Homo sapiens: one gene and its partner. The protein of the gene in region 2 purifies or fractionates together with the protein of the main gene of each other region. This does not show direct contact. Each region holds a gene or a part of one and is shown on either strand. Other genes may lie near its edges. The genes, in order: NT5C2 and ASB2.

Region 1 (4,034 bases), on a different chromosome or scaffold from region 2:
AAAACATTGAATAATTCTTTGTTGTTTTTTTGGTTGGTTGATGTTGATTCTAAAATTACCATGAACTTTCCATATACACCATATCTTGGTGTTCCTGAATTAAGCTCAGTTTATTGCAACTGAGGAAGACCCACTTACAGGTAAAAAAGGAGATTACTAAAACTGATGGGCAGTAATCACAGGTGGTGCTATTTGGGGCTGTTGGCAAATAGGTACGTGTTTCTCTAATACACTTAACATGATAGAAGCTTGGCAGTTTCCATTTCTGGATTTGATAGGGAATATTTAAGATTAAGAAAATGATGTTTGAGATGCTATCATATATATCCCACATACAGCATCTAATGGAGAAAAATATAAGCCTTCTCAGTTGTCCAAGAAAAAAGACTATGTTTTAGAATGGTACCAGCTGTGTAGTAAGAAGAATGTTTTTTATACCTTGTTTGATTAAGCACTTATTCCTTACAGAAAACAATTATGATTTTCTGTCTGGACGGAGTCAATATTTTTTAGTTGCTTTAGAATTAGTTTTTAAGATTTTACTCACTTTAGCTATATTAGGACATACTTTGAGTTGGTACAAAGCTTGAATTAAATGAGGTTGGTTCATGATGATTAAATACTACTACATAAAATTATTGCCTGTATTACTTTGCATTATCAATAATGTCTTCATTTTCACATAGGGGACTTGTCTTTGACACACTGTATGGAAATCTTTTGAAAGTCGATGCCTATGGAAACCTCTTGGTCTGTGCACATGGATTTAACTTTATAAGGGGGTGAGTACAGAGAACCTTTAGCCTCTTTCTAATGTTAAAGTCAAACAATGTGAAGATGACATCATCTCCCCAGATGTAATATATTTCCCTATTACTTTTCATCATTAAAGAGCAAATTCCCTTACATAAGGTTAGTTAACAGTTATTTATTAGGCAGTTGGAACCCAAACTGACATATAGTTAGCAATTACATTTTGTTTAAATTAAGTGCCTTCCAATTATACAGCATACAACAAAACTAATCTTAAAACTTGCCCAGAAGAACTTTAGTAGTTTTGACTTATTTGAAATTCTAAGATTTTTATTTTCTTCTTTCTAATACAGTTCTCAGGTAGCTGTTCAGAAGAGGTATGTATATAAAAATGCTTTGAAAAAATTTTAAACTATAGCAATTTAAATGATTAAGAGATTTTTAATAGCCAATACGTTTTTTAGATTCTAATGAATCTAAACTTTGAATCCTGACATTTGATTGTGTCATTAAAAAAATGTAAACATAAGGTTAAAGTGAATATGTGCTAATAATATTTTAAACAAATAAGAATAAGCTTTATTTTCAAAATAAAAATATTTCCACTATTGTCACTAATTTGAACTTTTTACCCTAGTAAACAGCAGATGAAATTTAGTATCTACTATTTTTTTGTGAAATGTCCCGATATTTTCAAATCATAATGCCACAATTTGACAACTTCTGTAGCTATAGCTTTACTGTTATACATTTTCTCTACTGTTATGCCACCTTATTTACTATTGACATTGTATTAAGGTCAGAACAACAGCTCGTAAAACCAGAATAGGATGTGTGTCAGTCTCTTATGTAACTTTTCCATTTACTATTCATTCTTGATGGCAGAATAGGAAAAACACCAGGCTACATTGAAATGTTTAAAAAGACAATGTCTTTTTTTGTGATAAGAGGCACAAACCAACTGTAATTGTACCAGAGCTTCCTTTAGATTTGAGGTCACAGGATGCCCCTTAGAATTGAAGCATCTAAGACTCTTTAGTTGGCATTACTGACATTACACAGGCTCAGAGATTTCCATGTATACATGAGAACGGTGTGAAGTAAACACCCATCTTGACACATCTGAGCAGGCCAGTGATTACATCCACATTTCTTTCACTGTTTCTTTCATGAGGGGGTTTGTTCAGGATCCATGAAAATATCAGGAAACAGGATTTAGAATATGAAGTAATTACAGGTTGTACTAGTAACTTAAGCTATTTTATACACAGATATTGTCATCATAACTCAGAATCTCAATGAAGATGAACCAGGGTTCTATTATGTCTAAAAAGGAATTTTTGTATTATAAGGGAGGGGTAGGCAGAGAAGAAAAGAGAAGCAGTTGGATAAGTTAGTACTACGATCAAATTTCCAACTCAAGATCCACAGACTTCCTCTCTTCCCTTAAATAAGCCAATAAAGTTTCCACATAGCTCCTTTGCTAATGCATTTAATAGTGTTTCAAAAATAAGTCATTTATGAGTAAATGCAGAATCATTCAAATAGCACTTAGCACTGTGCAGTCTTTAGAGTTAAACAGAAAAGCTGGCCAGGCACAGTGGCTTACGCCTATAATCTCAGCACTTTGGGAGGACAAGGCAAGAAGACTTCTTGAGCCTAGGAGACCAGCCTGGACAATAAAGTGAAACCCTATCTCTACAAATATCAAAAATTAGCTGGGCATGGTGGTACATGCCTTTGGTCCCAGCTATATGGGAGACTGAGGCAGGAGGAGTGCTTGAGCCCAGGAGGTTGAGGCTGCAGTGAGCTGTGTTGGTGCCACTGTAGTACAGCCTGTGTAACAGAGCAAGACCCTATCTCAAAAAAATAAAAATAAATTAATAAAATTAAAATTCCCATGAAAAGAAGAGACTGAAGATAGAGGGAAAGAAAGTTATCGAAGCTATTACAGTGGTAGACAAGGCTGGAAAAGAAGGACTCCATCAGGCTTTGCTAATGAGTTAGGACCTTATTTTTTGATAAATTTTTATTCTGTGGGTCACAGAAAGTTAGTAGTAATCTGTGCTGTAACTGTTTTCTTCCCATTCCAAGTGTAGCATTTCTTTTATGATATATTACCTCCCCCAAATTGATTTTTATTTTAAATATATACTAGTGTGATTTGACACTGAAGTTTACAATGTAATTGCTAACTATATTTATAAATCAATTTGGGTTCTAACTGCCTAATAAATGTTAACCATCTTTATGTAAAGGAATTTTTCTTTAATGATGGAGGGAATAGGGAAGTATATTGTATCTAAGGAGACAGTGTCAGCTTATTAAATCTAACTGAAGAAAGTATATTTTTACTGTTACCTTCCACCTTACTTTTATTAAAGAAAATCTTGGAAAGCTAGAAGATAAGATACTCTACAAAGTTATTCATTATTGGGAACTCTCATCTCAGAAGAGTGACTTAAGACAGGGAGCTAATGTGATTTTTATATGTCTAACTAGAGTTTATGCCATTTGTAGTTAACAAACCCAGGCAGGAATTAATCCAGGTCACTCTGAGTGTGAGCTTTAAATTTGATTTCCTTTATTTACATTGTTAATCTCCATGTATTCACTGTCAGAACTGTGCATTTTTATATTTTAGTATTTTTCCCTTTGAGTTTCTCTGAAATGTTTTCTTCTAGAAGTGTTTTTGCATCTTTAACAAATTCTGCTTCACTGGCTTTTTTCTTTTAAACCTTGAATTTTCTTCATGGTTCTGTTCTGTCTCTTCTCTTCCTTCTCTGCACACTAAGTGGTTTCATCTCCTCTAATACTTTTCATGATTCCATCTAGTATCTGTACGTAGATGATCTCAGTTATCTCTCAAGGCTGAATCTCTTTTAAGTTCTTGACCTTTGTTTCTAATTGCCTAATAAAAATCAGTTTACTTCAAACTTAGTATCACTAAAATAGAACTACTCTCACATCACTTCTTATCTAGTTTTCATATTTCTGTTCATCGTACCAACCACCTCTCAGAGACACCTTAGCATGGACATCATCATCTTTGACTCTTTAATGTTCCCCCAGCCAAATCTGCTCAGTTTGCCGGGTCTTATTTTACCTTGGTAATCTCTCTTGAATATATGAGTGAGCTGAGATCACGCCACTGCACTCCAGCCTGGCCGACAGAGTGAGACTCTGTCTCAAAAAAAAAAAAAGAAAAAAGAAAAAATTCTGAGAGTCAACTGGGTGATTCTGGGTTGCACAGCTGATCTCTCTATGCTCTTTCACATGTC
Region 2 (3,500 bases):
TACCAACCCAGGTTTGCAGACAGCCAGGGTCTGCCCGGGAACTGGCGGTGGATGGGGTGGGTCTATGTGGTTGTTTGAGGGGCTGGGGTGGGAGGTGGTCACTCTCCAGATGTCTTAGCAGAAAACTGGGGGCTAGAGGAGACACAGCTGGGAAGGCGGGGCCAAGAAGGAGGCTGGCAGCCATCCTCCACCACACCAAGCTCCACCAGAGGCTTGGGTCATGCCAGGGACTTGGGTCGGACATGTGAGGCTGCACAAGCCACTTAGCATCCTTGGCTGTGTTTGTGGATGGAGCTGCTCGTCAGCCTACCCTGCCCTGAAGGTGCCCTTCCAGAAACAGCTCCAGCATCTCCTCTACCAGGAAGCCTCCCTGATGGCTGAGAGTCCTCTGCTGCCTCCAAGGGCCCCCTTCACATTCTACTGCTTGGACTGCCTGCTATGGTCCTGTCTCTCTAGAAAGTCTAGAAACTTCTGAGGAGCAGGACTATGTCGCACTCATGTTGTAACCCCAGGAACTAACCCAAAGTCAGGTACACAATAGGTATTGAATAAATGCTGGACAGACGGGTGAATGAACGATAGGATCATGACAGTGCTTCAAGCCCTTGGAAGCACAGCTGTTATGGAGAAGTTTACTGCACAGTGGTAGACGGTGGCACGGCCCGAGTGCCCCACTGCCTATACTCAACCCTAGCTCTGCCACCTCCTGGCCACGTGATGTGAAGCAGGTTACTCGGTGCCTCACTTTGCTCATCTATAAAATGAAGATATTAATGGCATCCTGCCTGTGGAGGTGTTGTCAGGTGAAATTAGGTGACAGGTATAAATGTGGAGCACCTGGCACACAGCCGGTGGCCCCTAAAAATCTGCTCGTGTTATTCCACAGGTCCCAAGATGCTGCGATTCTCTGCCGTGATCCCAGAAAGTGGGTGAAACAGCCTAAACCTGTTCCTGCTGGGAGGATGCTACCTGAAACTCGTGCCCAGCTGGCGGTTCTCTAGGAGGCTCCATCCAAGGGATTTGAATTCCCACAAGCTCTCCTCCATTTAACAAGATTGAGAGTGAAAGTGAAAATGAGCCCCAAGCCCAGCCTTCGCGTGACAGCTGTGGTCAAAACTGCCGCTGTGACTGTCAGCTCCCCGGGCTGTGCGCAGAGCCTGCCGGGTGGTCCCAAGGGTCAATCATGGGGCTGGAGCTTGGGGAGGAAGGGGATCTCCACGCCCTCCCCCGAAGCCAGCTTGGGTGCAGGATGGATTCTGCACACTCCTTTCAAATTCCCCACTCTCCAGGAACCCTCCTGTCCCCCTGCCCTCTCTGCTCACATCATCTGCTGCCCTAGACTTTGGAGGCTTGAATTTCTGCACGAGGTGACTGCCAACAAATGACAAGAGCAGCCATTTAGTGAGCACGTAATTCATTTAATGGTGCTGAACACAGAGCAAGTGCTGCATGAGTATTTTGGTTAGGGTTCACTTGTACCTTTTAGGTTTAGCTCTTATGCAAAGCCTGTGGTTCAGATCCATGTGTCACCCTCAGGTCACTACGTCCCACTGCAGCAGGTATGGGGAGAATCATAACCATAACACCTTCCCTTGCAGTGAATTTCTCTCTCATATTTGTCTTTAGTTTGAACCACATAATAAATCTATAAGCGTATTATAGTTCCTATTCTATAGATGAGGAGACTGAGGCACACTAAGGGAAAAAGTGACAAGGAAGAGACTAGAGGCTACATCTGATTTTACACCAAGTATTCATCCCACACAATGAATAGCAACCACCGGATGTTTTTCAAGATTTGAGTGAAGGCCAGAATCAAACTGAAGACTATGTGTGTGTGTGTATGTGTGTTCATATTCAAAAACACTACATACACGCTACATGTATTATATATATTATATAATATACACACATAATAACATATAACATATAAGTATATAATAGGTAATTATATATTTTTATATTAATAATATAATATATATTATATATATAATATACACACATATACATACTTTCTATAAATCTACTCCAAAAGCTTCAAGGTCTCCCAAATATCACATGACCCGTAGCTAAGGCAATCCTGAAACCTGGCTGCTTGGGCTAGCCTGGGGACACACGAGGAGTCAGGAACTGGGCTGTTCCTTGGCACCCAGGGCGCTCGACCTCCTTCCTTGCAATGCTCTCTCCTTCTGCCAAAACTTATCTTTCTGATCTGCCTTTCCCCCCAGGATCCAGGGTGGTCCTAGGAAACCCAAGGAAACGCTTCCAGCTGGAGTGCTCGGAGGTGTAGGACATTGTTCTCTTCCCTTCCCGGGTCCTGTTGTTTTAGAACCTAATCAATAAAAATTAAGCTGGTGCCTGTGGGTCCTTGTCCTGTCTCCATCCAGGCCACTTTCATAGGTTGCCTCATTTTACTTTTTCAGTACTAGGGAGAAGAGTGGTCTTCCCATGGCGCGGATGAGGAGACTAAGGCCTGGAATGTATGTGGTACAGAGGTTGAGACCACGTCAGCCTGCGCCGTCTTCATCAGGCCCTCTGACACAACATTAAGGGCATGGCAAGGAGTCAGTTGCTCCGTGACCCTAAACCTCATCCCTCTGGAGGCTTCATCTCTGCTCTGGCTAAGAAATGCTCTGACCTTGGTAAGGAAGGGGGGATGGAATCCCAGCCACCTTGCCCTTGACCCCTATGAGTGGCCAAGTCGTAGCCAGGGTGGGCCTTTGGCCATGGGGGCAGTGCTCTCAAGCCTCTGGCTGCCCTGGGGCCTGGTGTCTAGGGCCTCACAGCTGCTAGGAGTTTGAGCCTTTGCTCAGACCCACACCATCAGCTAAGGAAAGCACCCACAAAGGCCAAGCTTCCAGTTTACCCCCAGCCACCACCACCACCGGCTGCGTCATCTCAGACCTTTTGATGCTGATTTCAAGCTCCCGGCTTTCGGGTGCCAGGGCCTTGGGGCTTCCAAGGCTGGGCTGGGGCTGCTGGAGGTGACTCAAGAGGTGTGCTCAGGGCTGCAGGCCCCAGCTGACTCCACAAGACAGGGCTCTTCTCTTTGTATGGAGTAGGGGTGTGACTGCCCCTACATAACCCTGTAGGAGGTGACAACCAGGGATTTGAACCTGTCCAAAGCTGGCTCTGCTCCCACGCCAGCAGACACTCTGTGCCCATTGTATAGAGGAGGAGACTGAGGCTGCATCTGAAATGGAGCGCCTCTTGCTGATCCAAATCTTGGTGAATCTCTCCCGAAGAGTCTAAGACCCTAACGAAAAGTCTTGGTAATTTATTTACTTATTGATGTACATTGAGGATGCCACTCCAAAAAGAGAGCAAGAATGATGGTGAGAGGAAGAGAGGGAAGAAGGAAAAACACAGGAAAAACCTCCCTGTAGAAGGTTTTTTGAATGTGGAAAGTGCCCTGTTGCAATGATGAGCATCCATTCTGCACAGGACATGCCCACTACCTGCGGCAGTGCCCACACCACCAGCTAAGAAAAGCACCCACA

Evidence for each region.
Region 1: the proteins of ASB2 (region 2) and NT5C2 purify together in Homo sapiens (affinity purification with mass spectrometry, with the first as the bait; one large-scale study listed by BioGRID). This does not show direct contact.

The regions. Positions count from the first base shown.
Region 1 is NC_000010.11:103,102,454-103,106,487, reverse strand, and holds part of NT5C2 (cytosolic purine 5'-nucleotidase), read left to right. Parts: intron 1-686; coding exon 687-782; intron 783-1,106; coding exon of another isoform or gene 1,107-1,130; intron 1,131-4,034. UniProt on the Homo sapiens protein: Broad specificity cytosolic 5'-nucleotidase that catalyzes the dephosphorylation of 6-hydroxypurine nucleoside 5'-monophosphates.
Region 2 is NC_000014.9:93,970,071-93,973,570, forward strand, and holds part of ASB2 (ankyrin repeat and SOCS box protein 2), read right to left. Parts: intron 1-3,500. UniProt on the Homo sapiens protein: Substrate-recognition component of a SCF-like ECS (Elongin-Cullin-SOCS-box protein) E3 ubiquitin-protein ligase complex which mediates the ubiquitination and subsequent proteasomal degradation of target proteins.